Homo sapiens: one gene and its partners. The protein of the gene in region 1 interacts with the protein of each later gene in a biochemical or structural test. Each region holds a gene or a part of one and is shown in the gene's direction. Other genes may lie near its edges.

Region 1 (7,233 bases):
GGAGGCGGAGGTTGCAGTGAGCCGAGATGGCGCCACTGCACTCCAGCCTGGCGACAGAGGGAGACTCCGTCTCAAAAAACAAACAACAACAACAACAACAACAACAAAACCCCAAAAGACCATGCAGTTTACGGATCATTATGCTGTTCCCTCATTTCTTTTTTGTTATTAATGGAATTTAGCAAAGAACATCTTCTGTACTATTACTTATTTTTCAAGAATAGGGCCGGGCGCGGTGGCTCACGCCTGTTATCCTAGCACTTTGGGACACCTAGGCAGGCGGATCACCTGAGGTCAAGAGTTTGAGACCAGCCTGGCCAACATGGTGAAACCCCACCTCTACTAAAAATACAAACATTAGCTGGGGGTGGTGGCAGGTGCCTATAATCCCAGCTACTCCGGAGGCTGAGGCAGGAGAATCACGTGAACTTGGAAGGCAGAGGTTGCAATGAGCCAAGGTCGCACCACTGCACTCCAGCCTGGGTGACAGAGTGAGACTCCAACTCAAAAAATAAAATAAAATAAAATAAAATAAAATAAAATAAAAATGGTGGCTGAATGAATCTCATAGTAATATTTTGATATGTAAAGAATGGTCCTGCTGGGCACAGTGGCTCACGCCTGTAATCCCAGCACTTTGGGAGGCCGAGGAGGGTGGATCACAAGGTCAGGAGTTCGAGACCAGCCTGACCAGCATGGGGAAACCCCCGTCTCTACTAAAAAAAAAAAAAAAAATACAAAAATTAGCCAGGTGTGGTGGTGGGTGCCTGTAATCCCAGCTACTCAGGAGGCTGCGGCAGGAGAATCACTTGAACCCAGGAGGTGGAGGTTGCAGTGAGCCGAGATTGCACCACTGCACTCCAGCCTGGGCAACAGAGTGAGACTCCGTCTAAAAAAAAAAAAAGAATGGTTCTGTTTTCATGTCCAATGCTATTTTCCTTTCCTCAAAGACTTTTACACCTGAATGTATATAATTGATTTTACCTAAGATTCCCATCCCTTAATTTTCCGTCTTATCTTTCCCAAGTTCCGGCTATTAATTTGGTAATTCCCTACATGTTGTCATTATAATGTATATATATCCCCCTTTGGGGACATAAACATATCCCCAAGGGAAGAGAAACACATAAACTTTTTTGTTTTTTTAAACTTTCTAACCCAATCGTCTCTGAAATCTGAGCCTGGACTAGATGAGGCCACTCACTTAAGAGAGGCCTTCAAAATGACTTTCCTATTATGAGTATTCTGTTTTTGAGTGCATTTGTTTTTTGAGGTAGGGTCTTACTCTGTTGCCCAGGCTGGAGTGCAATGGCATAATCATGGCTCACTGCAGCCTCAACCTCCTGGGCTCCAGTGATCCTCCCACCTTGGTCTCCCGAAGTGTGGGGATTACAGGTGTTAGCCACCACGCTCTGCCCCTGTTCTATGTTTTCATTTATTTTACTTCATTTTAAACATTTAGTTACTTTTAAATAAATGTTTACAGTCAATGTCAATATTTAAGATGGCAAGGAAAACAATAAAATGAACATCCATGTACCTGCTTAAAAAAATCATTACCAGTACATTGATTTTCTTTTTATTTTTGTGATAGTCTCAGTATGCTGCCCAGGATGGAATGCAGTGGCACTGGAATGCAGTGGTGTGATCACGGCTCACTGCAACCTTGACCTCCACAGGCTCAGGTGATCCTATCTCAGCCTCCTGAGTAGCTGGGCCTATAGGTGCAGGCCACCACTCCTGGCTAATGTTTTGTAGATACGGGGTTTTGCCATGTTGCCCAGGCTGGTTTCAAACTCCTGGGCTCAAGTGACTCCTCTGCCTCGGCCTCCCAAAGTGCTAGGATTACAGGCATGAGTCACCATGCCCAGCCCTTGAATGGTTTTAGTGTTATTCTTATCTGAATATTTGTTTTAAACAACAGGATTTAACCTTACAAGAAAGCCTAAATACAAACCTCTGCACGTTAACCCTATATACATTTTTCTATGCTGTCACTTACATTTTTTAATTTACTGCTTTCAACTTCAAAACAAGCAGTCTCCCCCAGGTCTCCCATGACGTTCTGAAATCCTAACTTCTATTACCTAATACAAGGCTACAAATTATGTTAGTTGGGTGGTTGGGAACAAAGCGTGCTGTAAAAATAAGGCAAATGTGTATGTGTACATTAGTTTGCTAAGTTTTTTGCCACTGTCTGCCCTCTTAAATTGTGGTAGCAGCTATTGTTCACATTGATTTCTATATATTTGTAGTACAAGGAAGCATTTCTAAAGGACCTTGTTCATTGCTTTGCACAAAATGGCCACTTAATATTTGTTGAATGAATTGCTGGCACTATCTCTGGTATTTTAATTTTTATTTATTTATGTATTTATTTTTGATATGGAGTCTCGCTCTGTCACCCAGGCTGAAGTGCAGTGGCGTGATCTCGGCTCACTGCAACCTCCCGTGTTCAAGCGATTCTCTTGCCTCAGCCTCCCTAATTGCTGGGACCACAGGCATGCGCCACCAGGCCCGGCTAATTTTTTTGTATTTTTTTTTAGTACAGACGGGGTTTCACCATGTTGGCCAGGCTGGTCTCAAACTCCTGACCTCAAATGATCCGCCCACCTCGGCCTCCCAAAGTGTTGGAATTACAGGCGTGAGCCACTGTGCCCGGCCTATCTGTGGTATTTTTAGTGTGATGTCTAGAACTTCATATACTTTTTTGGATTACTTTTAATTGTAGGGCTGTATCCAAACTGATGAAATGTTCTCGCAGGTAACTATCTGGAGAAGTGAGTTCACTGATGTATTAAAAGAAATGACTGGCATGGAATAAGGATTAAAATATATTAATCCAAAACATTTAAAATTGCATTAATGTTATAATAGCCTAAAGCAAAACTAACGAATCACATAAAAAATCCCCCACGCTATTGTCCTTAGTAGTTTACATTGTGCTAGATACTTTCGCATGTATATGCATACAACTTCTATTCTGTTTTTAAACTTTGCATTACATATACATTCTTCCATATTATATGATCTTCATAAAAATAGTTACATGGCTGCATAAAAAACCATGCGGTTCCTGGACTATTATGCTATTCCCTCATTCCCCTTTTGTTATTAATGGAATATAGCAAAGAACATCTTCTGTACGATTATTTGTCAAGAATAGGGCCGGTGCGGTGGCTCAGGTCTGTAATCCCAGCACTTTGGGAGGCCGAGGCGGGCTGATCGCTTGAGGTCAGGAGTTCGTGACCAGCCTGGGCAACATGGGAAAACCTAAACGTCTCTACTAAACATGTCTCTACTAAAAATACAAAAATTAGTGGGGCGTAGTGGTGCACACTGTGGTCTCAGCTACTCCAGAGGCTCAGGTGGGAGGATCACCTGAGCCCCGGAAGTTGAGACTGCAGTGAGCCGTGTTCGCACCACTGCACTCCAGCCTGGGCGACAGAGGGAGACCCTGTCTAAAAACAAAAAAATAAAAAATAAATTTCTAGCAGTACAGTTACAATGTCAAAGGATAAGGTACACATTTTTTAAAAACTTTTCTCTTTCTCCTCCTGAGATAACGAAATACAGTAGCGTATGAACAACTCTTCATACATTACTCTCCAAGGTTTATCTTGTTAATCCTTTAAGACGTATCATCTCCCCATCCTTGGCTGCACCTGAAAAGAGCGGGAGTCGGCAGGTAACCTGATCTCCTCCACCAGGTGAGTCCCGGATGGAGGTGTCAACTACAAGACCAGGAGCAGAGCATTCCTGGGGTTTTGCTGGAACCATCGGCGTGGGAATGCTTTCTCTTCCCTCGCCCGAAAGACGCCAAGTTCCCGGCAGGCAGCGGACTCGGTTCTAACCTTCCTCGCCCCAGCCTCTCGGAGCGCCCTGCACGCAGTGGGCGTCTAATAAAATGCAGTTGGCCCTGCTTGGACAAAAGTTCTCCCTTAAGTGGCCCGGACAGTAAACCCCTCCAGGTGCCACAGAGCTGCCGCGCCCGCCGCCGCTTTGCTCCCTGCCTGCTCCCTCCCAGCGTTCCGCGTGGGACCCTCGGCGGCAGCTCACACCCTCCCTGACTGCCGGTGCCCGCCAGGGCACCCTGCGCGCGCCCGCCGGCCCCGCCCCGGCCCCGCCCCGCCCCGCCGGCCCCGCCTCCCGTCTCCTCCCCGCCCCCCGGAGCCGACGAGTGGCGGCGGCGGCCCCAGGTCCCGGGTCCCTCAGACAAGAGGGCGGGTGGAGGAGGAAGCGGCCGAGCCCAGAGTTCTGCTCCGGCGCCCCCGAGCACCGCCCGCTTCAGCCGACCAGCCCCGTCGGCTACTGGGCCTCGCCGAGACGAGAGGAGGGAAAGGCCTCGGCGGCCGCGAGGAGGCGGCGGGGGCGCGGGCGGAGGCGGCGCGGGCGGCCGCGGCTGCCGCTTTGTTGTGCGGCCCGGGCCGAGGAAGGAGAAGTGGGAGGAGGGGGGAGCTCGGCGTCCCGCTCCCTCCGCGGCTCATGGCGACGACTCTCGGCACATCCGGGACCCTCCGGCCGTGGCGGCCGAGGCGCCGGCTGCTCGGGCCCCAGCCCCGGCCGCTGTGGTGACTCCGCCGCGCCTCGCCGTCGCCCCCGTGCCGCCCGCCGCCCCCGCCGCCCCCGCCGCCGGGGACATGTCTAACCCCGGAGGCCGGAGGAACGGGCCCGTCAAGCTGCGCCTGACAGGTGAGGGGGGGCGGCGGGCCGGGCTGGGCAGCCGCGGGGTGGGCGAGCTGGCGGGGGGTGCCTGTGGCCTTGGGAAGGGCCAGGGTCGCGATCAATGATGAGTTGGGGGTCGGAGGAATGGGAAGGCCTAGTTCAGGGAGAGTAATTGGAAAACCACTTGCTCTGGTTTGGACATTGTTTAAAAAGCCGAGGATGACTCGGGGCGGGGGGTGGTGTTTTGTGGAGGGGAGAATACACCGGTTCGCATCGCAGGCGGATTTCAGGTCGGAAAGTCTTGGTCAAGGAGCCAGACGCTGCCTCCCGGGGCTCGGGGAACAGCCCCTGGGCTACCGCCCAGGTGAGATCGTGAAGGGGATGAAGAGCTCCCGTGGCGAGGATTATTGAATCCGGTTGCTGACTGCGCGCAGTAAACACTCCTTAAAGATGGAGCGCTTAACGGGAGGGTGTGCGTGTGTGTTCCCGGGTTGTTACCTTGCACACACCCAGTTATGCCCGCATGAAAAACCTTTACTCCCCGCCGCCGGCCACCGCTGCCCGGGCCACACACCTTAAACTCATGTCTCTGAGGTGAGGAGACAGGTTGACTTTTCCGGTGTGCCTGTCTGATCCGACGGCTTGGGCTCATTGTACACTGTGTTTTGGAAGTGTCTGATTGTAGGGTGGCATGTTTGGGGTTGTTCCTTTTAGGCCGCAGAACTTGTGTCTAACTTCTAACGCCAGACCTGCTTTAAAAACACACTTTTTTGGGGGGGGTGCATTGCTAAGTATGTGCTCATACAAACTTTCGAGCAAACTTTCTGTTACTCTCCCCACCCTCCCCATTCCTTTTTCGAAATGGAAAAGAATGTCCGGAGGGGTTGCCAGATAGAAGACTACACTTACAAAGTGTTTATGATTCCAGGTGCATGAAATCTTTAACATTACAGGTACGTTTTGCTTACAGTGCCATTTTTGGTATTCTTACATGGACATGCCACCCCCGTTTTAGGAGAACTTTTATTTGGTTTGTAAAGGAATTGGAATCACGGCGTTATCCTACCTTCACCATTTACCCCTGATAAATTGTCCACGTTTGTATTCGGGTGAGTGGTGAGAAAGATAATTTTCCGTAGAGGATTTGTGTGTGCGTGCACGTGTACGGATAAACTGTAATTATGTTTGCCCACACTAGACTTTGAGATTTATTTGGACTAATTTTGTAGTTAAATGCCTGTGTGTCACATCCCAGTCCACTGGCTGAACTTGCTGGATGAAAACTTGCAGTGAATTTGGTATTTGAGAATTTAGCTTGAATGTATGTTGGCTGCAATTTAAATAATATATTACTTTCATGGCAGTTTTCCTTTCCCTAGGGAAAATTGCAGGGAATCATTAACTGAGTGATTCTTAATGGAAAACCTGGATTGGAGGATACTTGTATTCCACCCCCTCCCCCCTCATTCAGTGTCCTTACATTGGGAGGAGTCAGTGGAAACCTTTATAGGGGATCTTTGTTGCTTTAGAGTTTATCTGTTGCTGTTGCTGTCTGTAGTCAGTGATCGTGGAAAGAACATGTGATCCCAGGTGTGCAGAAAGCATCAGAAATAGGCTGTTTCCATTTACCCTCCTCTGGGCTATGTAGAGAAAATGAGGGAAAAAATTGGGTTTTTGATTTTCTGCAGATAAGGTTAGTTGAGGTTTTTAGTATGACTTAATAGATCTTAAAGTGTTTATCTGTGGTTTCCGTACTGCCTATGATACATTATAAGAATTTATAATTAAAGTTTATTAAGAGGAAAGATTATGCTTATATTTTAGGGGAAGGGGGAATATTGAACTACATTTATAGTGATTTTGTTTCAGGTTTTTCTGAGGAATTTTAAATACCCTGTGTCCTCTTAATAGTAAAAACAGTTTGAGGTACTCTGAGTTTCTTACAACTATTTGTCTCTGAATAGTTTTCTCTTAAAATTTGACAAATATTAAAAACATTGTCCTTCCTTCTTTGGTTACAGTGGAGTCTCTTCTGTTTTGCCAGGAAAGTTAACATATTTTTTCTTCCATTTTTGTTCATCATTTATAAATTAGATGGTATAGATTTTAGCAAATAGATCTCAAGAGCTGGATTCAATTAGCAGCTTTTTAGGACATAAACATTAAAGGGTTAGATGGAAAAGATTGTTTTGACTGACTGGATAAATGACAGGGCTGTGTTTGATGTGCGTCCAGGAATTGGTCTGGAGCTGGTGCCCAACTTCTCAGTCCATCTTGAGAAGCCAAATAAAATATTTAACCTAGGCCTCATTTTGTTTAAAAAAAAAAAAAAAAAAAAAGTTGATTCTTTGTGAAGACCTTAAGAAATGTTTGGCATACCTTTAGACTAAGTGTTTAACAGTTCATTTAGATCTGGGTTGCCTAATAGAGGAAAAAAAATCACTTAAAAAAAGACAGATCCCACAGTGAATTTATATTTGGTTTACAATACACTTGGGCTATAAGGTGTTTTAAAATTATTGTTCTTTGCTTTAAGTTAATACCATATTAGTATTTTAAATTTATAGA
Region 2 (7,026 bases), on another chromosome or scaffold:
GGATACTAATGTAAATTATAATTTTTTTATTTTAAATTTCATTTGTTTATTGTTGCTGTATAGGAGAGCAATCAACTTTTGCTTATTAACCTTGTATCCTGCAACCTTGCTATAATGCTTACTAGTTCCAGGAATTTTTTGGTCAGTTCTTTCTTATTTTTACATAGACAATCATGTAATTTGCAAACAAAGACAATTTCCTCCTTTCCTATCTGTGTACCTTTTATTTATTTATGGCATTAGCAAGGACTTCCAGTATGATGTTGAAAAGTGGGAGAGGAGGCATCTTTGCTTTGTTTTTGATCTTAGCAGAAAACCTTCTAGTTTCCTACCATTAAGTATGATGTTAGCTGTAGATGTTCCGTATCAAGCTGAGGAAGTTCCCCTCTATTCCTAATTTGCTGAGTCTCACTTAGTTTTTTAGTTTAACTTTTTTGTTTAAAATAATTTTACAGATACTGATTATAGTTAAATCCTTCAGGTCTCTGAAAAAGAATTTTTTGTCTCAAATTTAAACCTGAATTAGTTTATGTTAGAAAAACAATTAAAAATGTGTTGTTGCTGCTATGTTCTGAATTGTGTCGTCCCAAAATTCATGTTTTGAACCAAGGCCTGGGCACCTCCTCACTCCACCCAGAGGGTTGGGAGGGTAGAACATCAAACCAAAGAGGTTTATTCTCCAGCCTTAAGGCCTAATGCAATTTGCTTTGCTAGGTTTTCAGCTTCCTTGACCCATCATCACTCCCTTATTTTTTGTTTTTCCATTTTGGAATGGGAACGTCTATCCTGTGTCTGTCCCACCATAAGCACGTAACTTACCTGGTTTCATAGGTTTACAGCTGGAAAGGAATTTTGCCTCAAGTCTCGTATGTCATATGTAGATGATATTTGGATGATACTGGGTTTACAACATTAGAGTTGATGTGGAAATGAGTTAAGACTTCAGGGGCTGTTGGGATAGAATATATGTGTGTATTTTACATGTAAGAATGATGTGAATTTTGGGTTGCTGGGGTGGAATGCTAATGGACCATATTGAATCTCCCTAAAATTCATATGTTGAAGTCCTAACTACCAGTGTGATGGTATTTGAAGATGGAAATAATTAGGCTTGAGAGTGGGATTGTCATAATGAGATTAGTTCCCTTATAAGAAGAGGAAAAGAAACAGATCTTTCTCTAAGAGCATGCACTGAGGAGGGGCCATATGAGCACACAGTGAGAAAGCAGCTGTCTGCAAGCCAGGAAGCAGGTCCTCACTAGTTACCAAATCTTCTGGCACCTTGATCTTGGACTTCCCAGCCCCCAGACCTGTGAGAAATAAATTTCTGTTGTTTAAGCCACTCAGCCTTACGGTATTTTATAGCCTGAGCAAGCTACGACTATTGCCGATCCTGGTATTTCTATAACTTTTTAAATTGTCATATTCAAGCTGATTTCTAGTGCTTGTTTTCGGATATAGATTCACAGCTAGGAAGGACAGTGAGACTTGTGAAATATCTGAAAATTTTCTTTTTCATGTAATACTTGGGTTGGGTTAAAAGATAAACACATGGACAATCTGAGTTTCTGATATGTATTAAACTCTTTCTGTGTCTGGTTTGTTCACAGATGTTCAGCCTGTTGCCTATGAAGAGCCTAAACATTGGTGTTCAATAGTCTACTATGAATTAAACAATCGTGTTGGAGAAGCTTTTCATGCATCTTCTACTAGTGTGTTAGTAGATGGATTCACAGATCCTTCAAATAACAAAAGTAGATTCTGCTTGGGTTTGTTGTCAAATGTTAATCGTAATTCGACAATTGAAAACACTAGGCGACATATTGGAAAAGGTAATCTTGTCATTTTCCTACATTTAATCGAATTCAATCATTTGTTGTACTTGCCATGAACCATGCATTGTGAAAGGTGCTAGAAACATACAAAGAAGTTTGACACGTGGCCTCTGCCTTAAGTTGCCGATATTGAAGAATGTATTAATCAAATAAAGACATGATGTTCCCTCATTTTTTTGTCCTGCTTAGTGTTTCTTCCCAGTGCTAAGGATCTGAAATCATACTACCACTTTGTTTTTTGAGTGTTACCCTGACTGGAACATAAGCTGTACAGGAACTTGCTTTGTTCACAGCAGTATCCCCAGTAGCTAGAAGAGTGCCTCATTGTAAATACACAACACATATTTATGGAATATTGTGTATGAATGCTGGTGAAGGATTAGAATTTTATAATTAAGGTATTTGTGGAGTATTTTGGGTTGAGATGACTTGTAAGTGTTACCATGATGTGAGAGGAGCGGAATTAGAAATGGGAAATCTAGTGTGAATGATACTCCAGTGGCTTCACCACCACTGCTCCCATCTTTTAAATTTAGGCAATAAGGTTTTATTAATAATTCATCCTGCAGATAGTTGCCATAACAAACCGGGCCCTTTTCATACTGCAATAAAATGTCAAAGTCTCATGCATCAAGTGATCAGGAAGGAAACCCATCCCAGGTAAAGTGTATTGCCTGTTTCTTGAGAAGTTTTGTTTTTACCCCTTGCTGCATTTTGCTTCTTTAACTTGAGGGCATCTTGGTCCAAAATAGGAATAAAAGGTAAATAAATATAATTGTGATAGGATTTCTTATAGAAGTGATTCAAAAAAATCCTGCGGCCAAAAATAAGTTACGAAACAAAGTTTTCATTGTCTTGAGTTTACTGCCAACTTGCCTTAGTTTTTTCAGTGAAGTGCCTCACTTCTAGGCATTGATTTTTTTTTTCTTCCATCACAGTAGAAGTAATTTAAGGGAAATCTATTTTGTGAATTTTGAAATTCTAGAATCAGTTTTTTCTTTTTCCCCAGCATATAGTTCTAGGACCTTTTCTTTCATGGGTTAGTTTTGGGGTGGTGGAGGGATATGTTGGGAAAATACTAGGTGACTAGCTTTAGTTATATAATTTGAATATTTAATGTTAAAACTATTTCCACATATTTATATATTTTTAAAATTTTTATTTTTTTTGCCCTCACATCTTGCAAAGGAACATATATATTTTTAAATATAAAAAAATTTTAAGTAAGATAAATCTGCCATTTCAAAGCTCTTCTTATGACCTGAAATTATATATGTAACTTTGGTTTTTTTTTAGTGTTGCTGTCCTCTTTGTTAGCACAAAGAGTGCAAAAGTCTGTCAAATGACTGTTTATGATAGTTGATAGCACTGAGGATTTATTTGAAAGGACTCATCAAAAGATGATTTGGGGTTTTTTTTTTTTAGCCCTCTCTTTCTCTCATAGAGATGATAAATGATTGTTGGGAAAGGAAAAAGAGAACAACCTAAAAATGGATAACTTAATCTGCTGCCTATTTGAGGCTTCTCTTGTAGATGCAGGCAGACATTAACCTCTTGATTATCTTTGGCAGCAGAAGGCCATCTAGTGGTAACTTCTGTCTAAAGACTGCTGGAAGTTTGCTGTGGATTAATGGGTACTTTTGTTGCACCATACAGTCTATTTGGTTTCATTGTAATGATTCTTTTAGCTGACTCTTGTGATGTTTGTCTTTTTAAGGTGTTCATCTGTACTATGTTGGTGGAGAGGTGTATGCGGAATGCCTCAGTGACAGCAGCATATTTGTACAGAGTAGGAACTGCAACTTTCATCATGGCTTTCATCCCACCACTGTCTGTAAGATTCCCAGCAGCTGCAGCCTCAAAATTTTTAACAATCAGGAGTTTGCTCAGCTTCTGGCTCAATCTGTCAACCATGGGTTTGAGGCAGTATATGAGCTCACCAAAATGTGTACCATTCGGATGAGTTTTGTCAAGGTGAGTTGTGACCTCTAACATAATTTGAGTCACTATAAATGTGTATATTATGACTTTAGGTTATAATTTTTAAAAATTGTTAAATGAAAGTTGATAATTGCTTTTGGCCTGATTTAACAGGTTTTTAAATAAAATTATTGAATTTGTAATTTTAACTACATAATAGATCTAAGATTTCATTTTGTAATCTAGACATTATAAAATGCATGATTGATATTGATTTTGATATTGAATAGGGGCTGAGATTATAAGGAATTTTAGTTAAAAGACTAAATTTCTAGAAAGCATTTGTATTAGTCCATTTTCATGCTGCTAATAGACATACTCAAGACTGGGTAATTTATGAAGAAAAAGAGGTTTAATGAACTCACAGTTCCACGTGGCTGGGGAAGCCTCACAATCATGGCGGAAGGTGAAGGAGGAGCAAAGTCATATCTTACATGGCGGCAGGCAAGAGAGAATGAGAGCCAAATGAAAGGGGAAACCCCTTATAAAACTATCGGATCTTATGAGACTTTATTCACTACTGTGAGAACAGTATGGGGGAAACTGCCCCCATGATTCAGTTATCTCCCACTGGGTCCTTTCCACAACATGTGGGAATTATGGGAGCTACAATTTAAGATGAGATTTGGGTGAGGACACAGCCAAATCATATCAGCATTTAATATTAAAATTGCTATTTGAGTCTCTTAACTTCAACAGTTTTGATTATTATTACTAGATTTCATTAGGGTGACTTGGCAGAATTCTTTAGAATACTAAAATTATTTCATTCCTAGCTAAGTACTGTTATTAAAAGTAATGGCAGAAGCCACAATTACTTTTCCACCAACCTTAATATTAAGGATTTGCAAAGTTCAAAGGAACTTTTCAAGTTTTTCATCTACTCTCTTCACCTGACTGTATTGACATTCCAAAGATTTGTGCTTAAAATCTGAAAAGAATTTTAGTCATGTATTTAAGCAATCTGTACTGTATCTACATATTTAAGCAATCTGTACTGTATCTACATGGTTCTTAAGAATTTAGCACAAGAAGAGCACCTGTCACACGCTGTGCATGGGTTTTTTTCTTTTTGGTATTCAGCCCCAGTCCAGTGTTTTCATGATACTTTGCTGTAGATCTATTGTATACATCAGTTTACTGGTTACCCTGAAGGTATTTCTGCCTTCTTGTACAGTAATGTGACTTTTGCATATTTATTTTAATCTCCACTCCCCAATGTTCTTCACTCCCCTGACCGCCCTCCCTCCCCAACCCAGTTTTCCTGGGCCAAGACTACCATAAGCAGTAAACCAGAGAACCTGATAAATCCAGGAAAATAAAAGTGAAAAATTTCTATTTCAATTTTTATCTGCAGTTTTAGGCTAAAGATTTCAGCTCAGTTCATCCCAGTAATTTCCAACCTTAAAGGATAATCACTATGTGACTGCCACATTAAATTATACATGCATGTATTGATCAATATCTACAATGCCTTATCTGATATTCAAACAACTTGAAAATAAAAAATTTTTCGTTAAAAAAAAAAACCTGGGCCGGGTGAGGTGGCTCACACCTGTAATCCCAGCACTTTGGGAGGCCAAGGCAGGTGGATCACCTGAGATCAGGAGTTCGAGACCAGCCTAGCCAACATGGTGAAACCCTGTCTCTACTAAAAAATACAAAAATTAGCCGGGCATGGTGGTGGGTGCCTGTAATCCCAGCTACTAGGGAGGCTGAGACAGGAGAATTGTTTGAACCTGGGAGGCGGAGGTTGCAGTTAGCCAAGATTGCGCCATTGCATTCCAGCCTGGGCAACAAGAGAGAAACTCTGTCTCACAAAAAAAAAAAAAAAAAAAAAAAAAAGAAACTCTGACATGTGACATGATCTTACATGAGGCTATTTATGATTTTGATTTTGATTTTTTATATATGATTCCTTTATTAGTATTTAAGTGACATCTCTTTACATTTTTTAGTGGTTTCTCCAGGAATTACCACGTTATCTTTAACATACCCCAATCTACCTAGAGTTAATATTGTACTATTTTTAGAATGTAAAATATGAAAACCTTGCTGTTGAAGAGTTTTAATTACCTTCTTTTATTCTTTGTGCTATTCATAAATTTTACATCTGCACATTATATCTTATAATACAGTTAAAATTTTTCCTTTAAATAGTCATTAAGTCTTACAAAGAAATTAAGAGAAAATGGTATTTATAAATATTTGCAGGCAGATTCTTTGGGGCTATGTAAATACACTGTTTCTCCTTTATATTTTACCCACAATTTTTGCATTCTTCAATATATCTTGTCTACAGTAATTATTACTGTGGTGTTCTAGTGGTGATTTTCTATTTTGCATTTATCCCATTAAGGGAGAATGTATCTCAGATCAGAAATATTTGTTTTAATTATGAGATACTGTACTGTGTTACCTTTCTAAGATTAAAAAAAATTATGAACTATAACTGGCTCTAAGGGTTTCTTTTAAGGGAATTATATATTATTTTAGAATTCATGAATCTTTAAATAATGTAGCTGTTGTCTTTTAATTTCATGGTGAATACTAAGACTGGTTTTGTGATAGTTATTCTCTTTATGTAACTTCTACATATCTCTACTGTTAAAAGCTATCTTTTTCTTATGGTAAAATTGGTTTAGAGTGGTTGACAGTTTAAAGAGGGATTTGTGATGATATCTGTTCATTTTCATAGGGTTGGGGAGCAGAATATCACCGGCAGGATGTAACCAGCACCCCATGTTGGATTGAGATTCATCTTCATGGGCCTCTTCAGTGGCTGGATAAAGTCCTTACTCAGATGGGCTCCCCTCTGAACCCCATATCTTCTGTTTCATAATGCAGAAGTATTCTTTTCAATTATATTGTTAGTGGACTTGTTTTAATTTTAGAGAAACTTTGAGTACAGATACTGTGAGCTTACATTGAAAACAGATATTACAGCTTATTTTTTTCTACATAATTGTGACCAATACATTTGTATTTTGTGATGAATCTACATTTGTTTGTATTCATGTTCATGTGATTAACTCTTAGAAGTGTTGTAAAAGATGCAGAGTAAGTATTATGCCCCAGTTCAGAAATTTGGCATTGATCTTAAACTGGAACATGCTTTTACTTTATTGCCCTAACAATTTTTTATTAAATTTATTTGAAAATGCATCACATGATGAAAAATTATAGTAGCTTATAAGAGGGCATATACAGT
Region 3 (7,026 bases), about 24 Mb from region 1:
CCCTCATTAGGCATTTTAAAATATATTTTAGACAATTTGTGCTTATTTTGAGAAATTAGGTACATTGTAGCCTATTTTAACAGACCTTTCTGATGTAGTAAATTATAAGCTAATAGCTCAAAATACTGGAGCTCAAGAAAATCCAAGCAACATATACTGTTAAATTTCTTTGTTCTTTTCAAATTTATAAACGATGCTTTTTTTGGTATATGTCCATTTCAGATCATGGAAAATGCTGAGATTAACAATATCATCAAGATTGTGGGTCTTCAGTACAAGAAAAACTATGAAGATGAAGATTCATTGAAGACGCTTCGTTATGGGAAGATAATGATTATGACAGATCAGGTCAGATTTGTTATTAAATTTTTAGATTGTTCAACTAAATTAAGCATGTCTTAATTTAATTTCATTGTTTTTTGCCATGAAAATAAATTAGTTAAATAGGAGCTTTATTCATCATCTCTAATCAACATCTAATCAGATATGCTTATATCATATGTATGTTGCAAATACAGGTTAAGTGAGTCTGGATTTGAACAGACCTTTTTTGATTCCCATAGAAAATTTGACAAATTGCCAGTAGGTCAGTCATAATATTTTTTTATTTCTAAACAATTCTTTGTTTGTTTGAGATGGAGTTTCGCCCTTGTCGCCCAGGCTGGAGTGCAATGGTGCAATCTTGGCTCACTGCAACCTCCGCCTCATGGGTTCAAGCGATTCTCCTGCCTCAGCCTCCCGAGTAGCTGGGATTGCAGGCGGATGCCACCACACCCAACTAATTTTTGTATTTTTAGTGGAGACAGGGTTTCACCATGTTGGCCAGGCTGGTCTCGAACGCCTGACCTCAGGCGATCCGCCTGCCTCGGCCTCCCAAAGTTCTGGGATTACAGATGTTAGCTACCACGCCCAGCCTAACAGTTCTTTTGAACTTTGGCTTTCAAATCTTTCTAGGACCAAGATGGTTCCCACATCAAAGGCTTGCTGATTAATTTTATCCATCACAACTGGCCCTCTCTTCTGCGACATCGTTTTCTGGAGGAATTTATCACTCCCATTGTAAAGGTACGCTAATTTCTAAGTACCATCATGGATATTTTAAGACCCTACTCCTCAAACCTGGATATACATATAAGCCCCGTCACATGTAGTGGTATACAGGGGACCCCACAGTGTACAAAGCCACAGTCATTGTTTTTTATCACAGGTATCTAAAAACAAGCAAGAAATGGCATTTTACAGCCTTCCTGAATTTGAAGAGTGGAAGAGTTCTACTCCAAATCATAAAAAATGGAAAGTCAAATATTACAAAGGTTTGTAATGAAACCCATATAGAACTTCTCATTTTATTATACACCCTGTACAAGACTATATGAAGGAACTTGGTATTTTTGGTTTTATAGGTTTGGGCACCAGCACATCAAAGGAAGCTAAAGAATACTTTGCAGATATGAAAAGACATCGTATCCAGTTCAAATATTCTGGTCCTGAAGATGATGCTGCTATCAGCCTGGTAGGTTTGAGTTGTATTTTATATACATTCTAATTTTAGAAATCACTACTTTAGCCAGTTGAAACATTTACATTTTTGTATAAGACTCCGTATCAAAAAAAAAAGAATGTTTTATAGAATAGAATGTTTCCAGTAAGCATATCCCAGAGAAGGAATCAGATATTTTAGAAAATTTTGATTTTTGGCTGGGCTTGGTGGCTCATGCCTATAATTCTAGGACTTTGGGAGGCCAAGGCAGGTGGATCACCTGAGATCAAGAGTTGGAGACCAACCTGTCCAACATGGTGAAACCCCCTCTCTACTAAAAATACGAAAATTGGCCGAGCGTAGTGGCTCACGCCTGTAATCCCAGCACTTTGGGAGGCAGAGGCGAGCAGATCACAAGGTCAGGAGATCAAGACCATCCTGGCTAACAAGGTGAAACCCCATCTCTGCTAAAAATACAAAAAATTAGCCGGCCGTGGTGGCACGCAGCTATAGTCCCAGCTACTTGGGAAGCTGAGGCAGGAGAATCGCTTGAACCCGAGAGGCAGAGGTTGCAGTGAGCCGAGATCAGGCCACTGCTCTCCAGCCTGGGCAACAGAGTGAGACTCCATCTCAAAAAAAAAGGAAAAAGGCCAGGCGTGGTGGCTCACGCCTGTAATGCCAGTACTTTGGAAGGCTAAGTCGGGCAGATCACAACGTCATGAGATGGAGACCATCCTGGCTAACACGGTGAAACCCCGTCTCTACTAAAAATAAAAAAAAATAAAAAATAAAAAATTAGCCGGGCTTGGTGACACGCGCCTGTAATCCCAGCTACTCCGGAGGCTGAGGCAGGAGAATGGCGTGAACCCAGGAGGCGGAGCTTGCAGTGAGCTGAGATGGTGCCACTGCACTCCAGCCTGGGCGACAGAGCGAGACTCTGTCTCAAAAAAAAAAAAAAACAAAAAAGGTCGGGCGCAGTGGCTCACACCAGTAATCATAGCACTTTGGGAGGCCGAGGCGGGTGGATCACCTGAGCTCGGGAGTTCAAGACCAGCCTGACCAACATGGTGAAACCCCATCTCTACTAAAAATACAAAATATTAGCTGGGTGTGGTGGCACGTGCCTGTAATCCCAGCTACACGGGAGGCTGAGGCAGGAGAATCACTTGAACTTGGGAAGTGGAGGTTGTGGGAGCCGAAATCGTGCCATCACATTCCACAAGAGTGAAACTCCATTTCAAAAAAAAAAAAATACAAAAATTAGCTGGGCGTGGTGGCGGGCGCCTTTAATCCCAGGGGCTCAGGAGGCTGAGGCAGGAGAATCGCTTGAACCTAGGACGCAGAGGTTGCAGTGAGCCAAGATGACACCATTGCACTCCAGGCTGGGCAAGAGAACAGTAACTCCCGTCTCAAAAAAAAAAAAAAAGGAAAACAGTATTTTTGTTTTTCTGTTGTTCGTTCTTTGTAGAAGGATATTTTGGAACCTATTAGCCTATTAGTACCAGTGACATCTTTTCATCCTTTAATTTATAGGCCTTTAGCAAAAAACAGATAGATGATCGAAAGGAATGGTTAACTAATTTCATGGAGGATAGAAGACAACGAAAGTTACTTGGGCTTCCTGAGGTAAAAGTTTTAAATATATGCCACAAAATGGATTGTTAGACTGACCTTTTGGTATTGATACTATAGCAAATTAAACTTACTGAATAGTTATTTTAGTAAAAAATTTGATATGATAGAGTTGTGCAGCAGTTAAATTTGCTTTATCTTTAAAACATATAAAATATTTCTGTATTATTCAATATTTTTTAAAGACTTAAGAATTACAGAAATAATTCTTAGTTCTGAAAGGTTTCTGTTTGATTTTTGTGTTGAGCATTGTTTAGACCGGTAGACTCATGTAATACTATTTGGTCCTTCAGGATTACTTGTATGGACAAACTACCACATATCTGACATATAATGACTTCATCAACAAGGAACTTATCTTGTTCTCAAATTCTGATAACGAGAGATCTATCCCTTCTATGGTGGATGGTGAGTTCCAATTTGTTAGTCTGTTTTCATTGTAAGATGGAAATCAAATTCCAAAATTGGTTAAATTGAGGATACTTACGTTTGCTCTTATTTCATTTTAAAGGTTTGAAACCAGGTCAGAGAAAGGTTTTGTTTACTTGCTTCAAACGGAATGACAAGCGAGAAGTAAAGGTTGCCCAATTAGCTGGATCAGTGGCTGAAATGTCTTCTTATCATCATGGTGAGGTAAACACACAATCCATGTTTCCAGAAAGCATTATATCAGAAATCCCTGCAGAGTCATTCTCAAAACAGATTTGGTGAAAGTATAAGCTCATATATTCATAGTAAAGAACAAGTTGGTAAAACCTGTGAAAGAATAAAACTGCTTGCCCTTTGATTTCTGAAAGTAATATTCCTGCAGGGATATTCATAAGTCTGCAAAGGTCTACATTAAAAAATGCTTAGTATGTTTATTATAACTTTGTGATGTCAAAATTTAGACCTCCACTGATTTGAAAATTGTTATAATAAATTGTGACACATGTATGCATGGAATCAGTGCTGTAACTTCAGTAAAACTGTGTGCACTGACACTGAGGAATATCCAGGGTCTATTCTCAGGTGAGGAAAAAAAGAGACAGAACAATAACTAAAAATGTCTACAAGGATATGTTCCAAATTGTTCACTTTAGTTACCCCTGAGAACTGGAAAGGGCAACTTTCACTTTTTATATGTGTCTGAATTGTTTGACTTTACACCAATGTTTTGTGATTACTTTTTGCATTAATTATGTAAAACAGTTTTAAAGAACTAGATTGCCTACAGGTTTCTAGAATTTTAAATATAATGGTTGTCTTGTTGCTTTCAATCAAAATATAGTAGGGATACAATAAATTTTCACCCAACGAACATTTGTTGAATGCCTACCATGTACCAGGTATACAAAAATAAATAAAAATATGTTCCTTATCCCCAAGATATAATAACAATTTAGCCAGAGGGCCAATACACACACAGCTATAGAATAAAGTGATACATGCTAGAATAGAAATGAACACAGCATTGTAACACAAAGGAGGAAATATTTCATTTTGCTGAGGATAAGGAGAAGAACTATGCCTTCAAAGTTGAGTGGGATTTAATAGAAATTGTTGGACGGCAGCCCTAAACTTGGAGCCAGAAGTTGTAGGTTCAAGTACTATTTCTGCCATCTATTAATCTGAGGAAAGTCACTAAACAACTAGACCTCACAAAATGTTACAGGATTATAGTGAGGTTAAGTCATAATGTATTTGTATTAGTAAAAGCCTCAGCTTAATGAATCTTTTTTTCCCCACAGATGTCACTAATGATGACCATTATCAATTTGGCTCAGAATTTTGTGGGTAGCAATAATCTAAACCTCTTGCAGCCCATTGGTCAGTTTGGTACCAGGCTACATGGTGGCAAGGATTCTGCTAGTCCACGATACATCTTTACAATGCTCAGGTAGGTATGCTTTCACTTTCTAGTGACTTGCCATTTCCAGTTTTGAAACAATGTGAGATTTAGTTCACCAAAAATACAAAAACTCAGTTAATCAGAAGATACTGGCATCTAGTGGCAGAGGCCAGGGGTGAGGCTTATACAGGAAAGCCCCCCCATAACAATTATCCAGTGCAACATGTCAATTATGCTAAGGTTGAGAAATCCTGATGTAGAGCTTGGGACTGAGTAAAGGAGACTTTGATTCTTCCTAAATATCACAATTGAAATTTTACTCCTTTACAAGCCTATGGAAAGTATATTATGAATGGTCAATTTTCAGCTGTCATCCCAGTCACCCTTTCAGTGGCATTCAAACAGTTACTAATTGCTCCATCCTTCTTGAAACTCTTTATTTGGCCTCTATGACTGTAGACTCTTCTGGTTCTCTTCTACCTTATTAGCTTTCTCTGCTGGGTCCTTCTCACCTTCCCAACCTCTAAATACTGGCCCATTCCAGGGCTCCTTCATCAGATCTCTTTCCAATGCCTACACTCAATTCCCAAATGATCTCCCATTCATCCGTTCTATACCTTTAAATCTCCAGTCTTGGTCTCTCCCCTGAACTCCCAACTTTTATGTCTGACTGCCCTCTTAACATTTCCCACTTGGATATCTAGTTAAGTATCTCAAACATAAGTCTAAAACCAAATCCTTAGTTTTCCTGTCTCAGTAAATGGAATGCCATGCCATCCTTCTAATTGCTCAGGCTAAAAACCTTGTCACCCTTGACTCCTTTGCTTGATACTTAACATCCAGTTCCTCAGCCAATCCTATAGGATCTGCATTGGAAAAATACTAAGCCACCCCCATCTCATCTAAACTATTGTAACATATCATCTTTTCTTAAAGCAGCCAATTATTTTTTAAAAAATAAGTCACTCTGATTCAGAACCTTCAACTGCTCAGAGTAAAATCTAAAGACCTATTTTAGCTAACCAGACATTATGTGATCCGTGTCCCCACCTTCCATGTCTTTTGATTCCTTCTCATACCATCTCCTCTCCAGCCACACTGTCCTTGGCCTATACTCAAATATACCGAGCACATTTCCTCTTCAGGGCCTTTTACTTACTGGTTCCTTTGCCTGCAACACTCTTTCTCTAGATATCCACATGGTTCAGTCCCTCAGTTTGTTTTTTGTTGTTTTTTTTTCTTTTGAGATGGAGTTTTGCTCTTTTTGCCCAGGCTGGAGTGCAGTGGCGCAATTTCGGCTCATTGCAACCTCTGCCTCCTGGGTTCAAGTGATTCTCCTGCCTCAGCCTCCCGTGTTGCTGGGATTACAGGTACACGCCACCATGCTCAGCTAATTTTATATTTTTAGTAGAGATGAGGTTTCACCATGTTGGCCAGGTTGGTCTTGAACTCCTGACCTCAGGTGATCTGCCTCCCTCAGCCTCCCAAAGTGCTGGGATTACAGGCGCGAGTTACTGCACCTGGCGCCCTCAGTGTCTTTTCTCTGCTCAAATGTTTTCCTATCAGAAACGGCTTAACTTTCCTTAGCACCTCTTCAGTCACTTTCCCACTTTTTCTTCTCTTGTTTATCCCACCACCTAACAAAATATGTGTTAATTGCAAACTTCTACTGGACTGTGAGCTCCTTGAGGATTGAGACTTTATGTCCATGTGCGTGACACATAGCAAGTGCTCAATAAATATTGTTAAATGTATATTAGTCAGCAAGTAAAACCAAGATAATTTTCATGTATAATACATGTCCTTTCCATAAAAGTTAAGTGTGAAATTCAGTATTTTTGTAAAATAACATTCTTTGTTTCTTTTCTTTAGCTCTTTGGCTCGATTGTTATTTCCACCAAAAGATGATCACACGTTGAAGTTTTTATATGATGACAACCAGCGTGTTGAGCCTGAATGGTACATTCCTATTATTCCCATGGTGCTGATAAATGGTGCTGAAGGAATCGGTACTGGGTGGTCCTGCAAAATCCCCAACTTTGATGTGCGTGAAATTGTAAATAACATCAGGCGTTTGATGGAT
Region 4 (7,026 bases), on another chromosome or scaffold:
GGATGTGGCATAGACCTTGTCTCTTTTATTCCCTGCAGCACTCCCTGATGGGGGCGGCAGAAAAGTAACGAGCAAATACATCTATAACTGCAAATTGTGGTAACTCCTACATAAACAACTGGCAGCAATTGCTTATATTTGAGGCACTTAAAAATTTTTAAGCTGGCTGGGCGCGGTGGCTCATGCCTGTAATCCCAGCACTTTGGGAGGCCGAGGCGGGCAGATCACGAGGTCAGGAGATCGAGACCATCCTGGCTAACACGGTGAAACCTGTCTCTACTAAAAATACAAAAAATTAGCCGAGCGTGGTAGCAGGCGCCTGTAGTCCCAGCTACTTGGGAGGCTGAGGCAGGAGAATGGTGTGAACCCGGGAGGCGGAGCTTGCAGTGAGCCGAGATTGCACCACTGCACTCCAGCCTGGGTGAAGGAGCGAGACTGTCTCAAAAAAAAAAAAAAAAAAAAAAAAAGAAATTTTTTTAAGCTGCTGGGCGCGGTGGCTCACGCCTGTAAATCTCAGCACTTTGGGAGGCCGAGGTGAGCGGATCACCTGAGGTCGGGAGTTCGAGACCGGAACATGGTGAAACCCTGTCTCTACTAAAAATACAAAATTAGCGGGGCGTGGTGGCTCATGCCTGTAATCCCAGCTACTTGGGAGGCTGAGGCAGGAGAATCGCTTGAACCCAGGAGGCAGAGGTTGCAGTGAGCCGAGATCGCGCCATTGTACTCCAGCCTGGGCAAAAAGAGTGAACTCCATTTCAAAAAAAAAAAAAAAGGCCAGGCGCAGTGGCTCACGCCTGTAATCCCAGCACTTTGGGAGGCCGAGGCAGGCGGATCACGAGTTCAGGAGATTGAGACCATCCTGGCTAACACGGTGAAACCCTATCTCTACTAAAAATACAAAAAATTAGCCGGGTGTGGTGGCGGGCGCCTGTGGTCCCAGCTACTCGGGAGGCTGAGGCAGGAGAATGGTGTGAACCCAGGAGGTGGAGCTTGCAGTGAGCCGAGATTGCACCACAGCACTCCAGCTTTGGTGACAGAGCGAAACTCCGTCTCAAAAAAAAAAAAAAAAAAAATTTAAGCTTAGAGGCCGGCCACAGTGGCTCAGCACTGTGCAGGCCAAGGCAAGAGGATCACTTGAGGTCAAGAGTTCGAGACCAGCCTGGCCAACATGGTGAAACCCTGTCTCTACTAAAAAATACAAAAATTGGCCAGGCGCGTTGGCTGGCGCCTGTAATCCTAGCAACTTGGGAGACCAAGGCAGGCAGATCACCTGGGGTCAGGAGTTCAGGACCGGCCTGGCCAACATTAAAACATATAAAACCCCGTCTCTACTAAAAATATAAAAATTATCCAGGCATGGTGGCGTGTACCCGTAATCCCAGCTACTCGGGAGGCTGAGGTAGGAGAATTGCTTAAACCCGAGAAGCAGAGGTTGCAGTGAACCGAGATTACGCCACTGCACTCCAGCCTGGGCAACAGAGCGAGACTCTTTCTCAAAAACAACAACAACAACAAACAAACAAATTAGCCAGGCATGATGGTGGGCACGTGTAATCCCAGCTACTCGGGAGGCTGAGGCAGGAGAATTGCTTGAATGTGGGAGATGGAGGCTGCAGTGAGCCGAGATCACACCACTGCACTCCAGCCTGGGCGACAGGGAGACTCTGTCTCAAAAAAAAAAAAAAAAAAAAAAGTTTATAAGGCTGAATTACCGTACTGTCAAAACAAGCTGCTATCTGAGCCGTTTTAAGGGTGAGGAAGTCTGGAAACTGATAACTTGCCCAGGACACACAGTGAGTTCAAGGCATGGAACTCAGTCTCCTATCTTAAGAATGTATGTGGGCCGGGCATGGTGGCTCACGCCTGTAATCCCAGCGCTTTGGGAGGCCAAGGCAGGCAGATCATCTGAGGTCAGGAGTTCAAGACCAGCCTGACCAACATGGAGAAACCCTGTCTCTACTAAAAATACAAAATTAACCAGGTGTGGTGGTGCATGTCTGTAATTCCAGCTACTCAGGAGGCTGAGGCAGAAGAATCACTTGAACCCGGAAGGCAGAGGTTGCGATGAGCCGAGATTGTGCCATTGTACTCCAGCCTGGGCAACAAGAGTCTGGAACTCTGTCTCAAAAAAGAAAAAAAGAATGTATGTGTAGCAGGCTTTTTTTTTTTTTTTTTCCCCCGAGACGGAATCTGGCTCTGTCGCCCAGGCTGGAGTGCAGTGGCGCAATCTTGGCTCACTGCAAGCTCCGCCTCCCAGGTTCACGCCATTCTCCTGCCTCAGCCTCCCGAGTAGCTGGGACTACAGGCACCCGCCAGTACGCCGGGCTAATTTTTTGTATTTTTAGTAGAGACGGGGTTTCACCGTGTTAGCCAGGATGGTCTTGATCTCCTGACCTCGTGATCCACCCGCCTCGGCCTCCCAAAGTGCTGGGATTACAGGCGTGAGCCACCGTGCCCGGCCTATGTGTAGCAGGCTTTAATGGTGGGCCTGCAGCCATGTCATGGAAAGAAGCTGACCTGAAGATCTCAGTTCTTTCTTCTTCTACTAACTAGCAAGCATACCTCAGTTTCTTCTTTAAAGCGGGATGATCCGATTATTATCATGTTGGGGTTCACTTTTTATTTTTTCAGTGTGTCCCAAAGCAGCAGCACGTTTAGGTATAGCCCTCTTGCTATCAGCTTGAGGGCCTTAGAGCCAGGAAGGGAGCCAGGACATTTATAGGCACAGAAACTAGGGTCACATACAGATCCCCCCACCGCATGTGCTAGGGGTACATGCAGACCTTCCCAGTGCTGACCAACCTGCAGAGAAGAAATGGGCCCTAGGTATTCTGGATCTGATTCTTTTTGGTCTTCAATTATTTTTATTTTTATTTTTTTAGAGACAGGGTCTCGCTGTGTTGCCCAGGCTGGCCTCGAACAGCTGGGCTCAAGCGATCCTCCTGCCCTAGCTTCTTGAGTAGCTGGTGGTCATCAATTCATTTTTAGCAAATTCTGCAGAATTTTTTTTTTTTTTTTTTTTTTTGAGACGGAGTCTCACTCTGCCGCCCAGGCTGGAGTGCAGTGGCGTGATCTCGGCTCACTACAACCTCCGCCTCTTGGGTTCAAGCAATTCTCTGTCTCAGCTTCCTGAATAGCTGGGACTGCAGGCGCCCGCCACCATGCTTGGCTAATTTTTTTGTATTTTCAGTAGAGACGGGGTTTCACCATCTTGGCCAAGTTGGTATTGAACTCCTGACCTCGTGATCCATCCGCCTCGGCCTCCCAACGTGCTGGGGTTACAGGCGTGAGCCACCGCGCCCGGGTTCTGCAGGAATTTTGGAGAGACTCAGGCAGTAATAAAATAGGATGTTTACAGAAATTAAAGATGGCGGCCGGGCGCGGTGGCTCACGCCTGTAATCCCAGCACTTTGGGAGGCCGAGGCGGGCGCATCACGAGGTCAGTAAATCGAGACCATCCTGGCTAACCCCGTGAAACCCCGTCTCTACTAAAATACAAAAAAATTAGCCGGGCGTGGTGGCGGGCGCCTGTCGTCCCAGCTACTCAGGAGGCTGAGGCAGGAGAATGGCGTGAACCCGAGAGGCGGAGCTTGCAGTGAGCCGAGATCGCGCCACCGCACTCCAGCCTGGGCGACAGAGAAAGACTCCGTCTCAAAAAAAAAAAAAAGAAATTAAAGGTGGCTGGACACATTGGCTGGTGCTTGTCATCCGAGCTACTTGACAGGCGGAGGCAGGGGGATCGCTTGAGGCCAGGCGTTTGAGACCAGCCTGGGCAGCATCATGAGACCCTGTCTCTAGAAAAAATAAAAAAATTAGCTGGGCATAGTGGCGCAGGTTTGTAGTTCCAGCTACCGGGGATGCTGAGGCGGGAGGATTGCTTGAGCCCACGAGTTCGAGGCTGCAGTGAACTATTATTGCACCACTGCACCCAACTTGGGTGACAGAGACCCCATCTGTTTGTTTGTTTGTTTTTGAGACAGAGTTTCGCTCTTGTTGCCCAGGCTGGAGTGCAATGGTGCAATCTTGGCTCACCGCAACCTCTGCCCCCAGGTTCAAGCAATTCTCCTGCCTCAACCTCCCGAGTAGCTGGGATTACAGGCATGCGCCACCATGCCCAGCTATTTTTTTTTTTTTTTTGTATTTTTAGTAGAGACGGGATTTTCTCCATGTTGGTCAGTCTGGTCTCCAACTCCCGACCTCAGTTAATCCCCCAAATTGGCCTCCCAAAGTGCTGGGATTATAGGCGTGAACCACTGTGCCCAGCCCGAGACCCCATCTCTTAAAAACAAAATAAAACAAAACAAAAACGGCCAGGTGTGGTGGCTCACACCTGTAATCCCCAAACTTGGGAGGCCGAGGCGGGTGGACCACTTGAGGTCAGGAGTCTGTGACCAGCTTGCCAACATGGTGAAACCCCATCTCTACTAAAAATACAAAAATTAGCTGGGCATGGTGGTGCGCACCTGTAATCCCAGCTACTCAGAAGGGAGGCTGAGGCAAGAGACTCAATTGAACCCAGGAGGCGGAGGTTGCAGTGAGCCGAGATTGCCCCACTGCACTCCAGCCTGGGTGACAAAGTGAGACTCGCTCTCAAAAAAAAAAAAAAGAAGAAATTAAAGATGAAAGAAAACAAACATTCCAAAAAGTTGAGAAAGAATTGCCTTTTGTCCAGCCCCACTCCCAACCCCCCAACCCTGTTGTAATGTGTGATCTGTTTTCTTCCAGTCTCGTTTCCTCTCAGTCCATCCACCCTTCATGGGGCCAGAGCCCTCTCTCCAGAATCTGAGCAGCAATGCCGTTTGCTGAAGACAAGACCTATAAGTATATCTGCCGCAATTTCAGCAATTTTTGCAATGTGGATGTTGTAGAGATTCTGCCTTACCTGCCCTGCCTCACAGCAAGAGACCAGGTGAGCAAGGGAAGTGACAGCCCGACACTGGCCTGGGGGCAGGGCTGTGGAATTCAAAGCTCAGCCCCATCCTAGTTCCTCACCCAAGCCTGGGCTGGCTCCTTCCTTCTTCCTCTTGCTGTGTCTTGCTCCTTGTCCTTGCTGCTTTTCTTTTTTTTTTTTTTTTTTGAGATTGAGTCTCGTTCTGTCGCCAGGCTGGAGTGCAGTGGCACGATCTTGGCTCATTGCAACCTCCGCCTCCTGGGTTCAAGTGATTCTCCTGCCTCAGCCTCCTGAGTAGCTGGGATTACAGGTGCGTGCCACCACGCCCAGCTAATTTTTTTGTTTTTAATAGAGACGGGGTTTCACCATGTTGGCCAGGATGGTCTTGATCTCTTGACCTTGTGATCCGCCTGCCTCGGCCTCCCAAAGTGCTGGGATTACAGGCGTGAGCCACCGCACCCTTGCTGCTTTTCTAACTTTTGGATGGAGTGTGGCTCAGGGTGGCGTTGCTGACTTCGCCGAGCTCCCCCTTGTGTTGCTTTTGTGCACTGCTCAAAAATATGGCGCTGGCTCTCTGAGATTTCCTGGCTCTGGTCCACTTGCCCACTTTTTTTGGAACCTCCTATTTCCTTCATCTCTCTTGCCCTTCCTTGTCCTGCTCAGTTTTGATTCCATTCTCCTTGTCATGGGGCCCTGTCCTGGCACGGAGCTGGGACTCAGGTTTGAGAGCTGGCAGGATCAGGGTCGCTCTAGCCCCAACAGAACTTGCTGCAGGCCCCTGGCACTCACTAGCTGGTGAAACGGGCACAACCCCTCCCCGTTGTAGCTGCTGTTCTCAGATTGGACCCCTGTGCTCCAGAGGGTACCTGTTGGCTCTTTTGGGGCCTCCTGTCCTCAGATTTCTCAGGAGCCCCATTGTTGTCTCCGCTGTCCTCCCACACAGATCGCATTAGTATGCAGGTCTGTTTGGAGTTTGCTCCTCCCTCTTGTATTTTGGGGTTTATAGGGATATCTTGTTTTATAGTAAATATTTTCTGTGGGTTTTCTTTATTTTCTTTAAAAAATTTTTTTTTGAGACGGAGTCTCGCTGTGTTGCCCAGGCTGCAGTGCAATGGCATGATCTCAGCTCACTGCAACCTCTGCCTCCTGGGTTCAAGTGATTCTCGCGCCTCAGCCTCCTGAGTAGCTGGGGTTACAGGCGCATGCCACCACACCTGGCTGATTTTGTATTTGTAGTAGAGATGGAGTTTCACCATGTTGGCCAGGCTGGTCTTTATTTTTATTTTTGAGACAGAGTCTTGCTCTGTCACTCAGGCTGGAGTGCAGTGGCACGATTTTTTTTTTTTTTTGAGACGGAGTCTCACTCTGTCGCCCAGGCTGGAGTGCAGTGGTGTGATCTCGGCTCACTGCAAGCTCTGCCTCCTGGGTTCACGCCATTCTCCTGCCTCAGCCTCTTGAGTAGATGGGACTACAGGCGCCTGCCACCATGCCCGGCTAATTTTTTGTATTTTTAATAGAGACGGGGTTTCACTGTGTTAGCCAGGATTGTCTCGATCTCCTGACCTCATGATCCACCCGCCTCGGCCTCCCAAAGTGCTGGGATTACAGGCGTGAGCCACTGCGCCCAGCATTTTTTTTTTTTTTTTTTTTGAGATGGAGTCTCGCTGTGTCTTCCAGGCTGGAGTTGCAGTGGTGCCATCTTGGGTCAACCTCTGCCTCCTGGGTTCAAGCAATTCTCCTGCTTCAGCCTCCTGAGTAGCTGGGATTACAGGTATATGCTACCACACCCGGCTAATTTTTGTGTTTTTAGTAGAGACGGACTTTCACCATGTTGGTCAGGCTGGTCTTGAACTCCTGACCTTGTGATCCTCGGCCTTCCAAAGTGCTGGGATTACGGGTGTGAGCTACCGCACCTGGCTATTTTCCTTTTTCTAAAAATCTAGCTCCTGCAGGATTCTGTGGGTTTTTGTTTCTGCTGTCTGGTTGCTTGTTTTTATGTGAGAATTCAGGTAGACATAAAAACTCTAGGGCTGGGCACGGTGGCTCACGCCTGTAATCCCAGCGCTTTGGGAGGCCAAGGCGGGTGGATCACCTGAGGTCAGGAGTTCGAGACCAGCCTGGCCAACATGGCGAAA

What was found.
Region 2: of the proteins of SMURF2 (region 1) and SMAD5, one has a biochemical effect on the other in vitro, tested with the Homo sapiens proteins (one study listed by BioGRID).
Region 3: the proteins of SMURF2 (region 1) and TOP2A form a complex in vitro, tested with the Homo sapiens proteins (one study listed by BioGRID).
Region 4: the proteins of SMURF2 (region 1) and MAVS form a complex in vitro, tested with the Homo sapiens proteins (one study listed by BioGRID).

Annotation. Positions count from the first base shown.
Region 1 is NC_000017.11:64,659,288-64,666,520, reverse strand, and holds the start of SMURF2 (E3 ubiquitin-protein ligase SMURF2), read left to right. Parts: upstream 1-4,213; 5' UTR 4,214-4,640; coding exon 4,641-4,692; intron 4,693-7,233. UniProt on the Homo sapiens protein: E3 ubiquitin-protein ligase which accepts ubiquitin from an E2 ubiquitin-conjugating enzyme in the form of a thioester and then directly transfers the ubiquitin to targeted substrates.
Region 2 is NC_000005.10:136,170,824-136,177,849, forward strand, and holds part of SMAD5 (mothers against decapentaplegic homolog 5), read left to right. Parts: intron 1-1,610; coding exon 1,611-1,832; intron 1,833-3,552; coding exon 3,553-3,809; intron 3,810-6,513; coding exon 6,514-6,657; 3' UTR 6,658-7,026. UniProt on the Homo sapiens protein: Transcriptional regulator that plays a role in various cellular processes including embryonic development, cell differentiation, angiogenesis and tissue homeostasis.
Region 3 is NC_000017.11:40,400,871-40,407,896, reverse strand, and holds part of TOP2A (DNA topoisomerase 2-alpha), read left to right. Parts: intron 1-222; coding exon 223-348; intron 349-954; coding exon 955-1,065; intron 1,066-1,207; coding exon 1,208-1,313; intron 1,314-1,403; coding exon 1,404-1,513; intron 1,514-3,013; coding exon 3,014-3,106; intron 3,107-3,405; coding exon 3,406-3,520; intron 3,521-3,623; coding exon 3,624-3,745; intron 3,746-4,842; coding exon 4,843-4,991; intron 4,992-6,815; coding exon 6,816-7,026. UniProt on the Homo sapiens protein: Key decatenating enzyme that alters DNA topology by binding to two double-stranded DNA molecules, generating a double-stranded break in one of the strands, passing the intact strand through the broken strand, and religating the broken strand.
Region 4 is NC_000020.11:3,849,833-3,856,858, forward strand, and holds part of MAVS (mitochondrial antiviral-signaling protein), read left to right. Parts: intron 1-4,725; 5' UTR 4,726-4,792; coding exon 4,793-4,909; intron 4,910-7,026.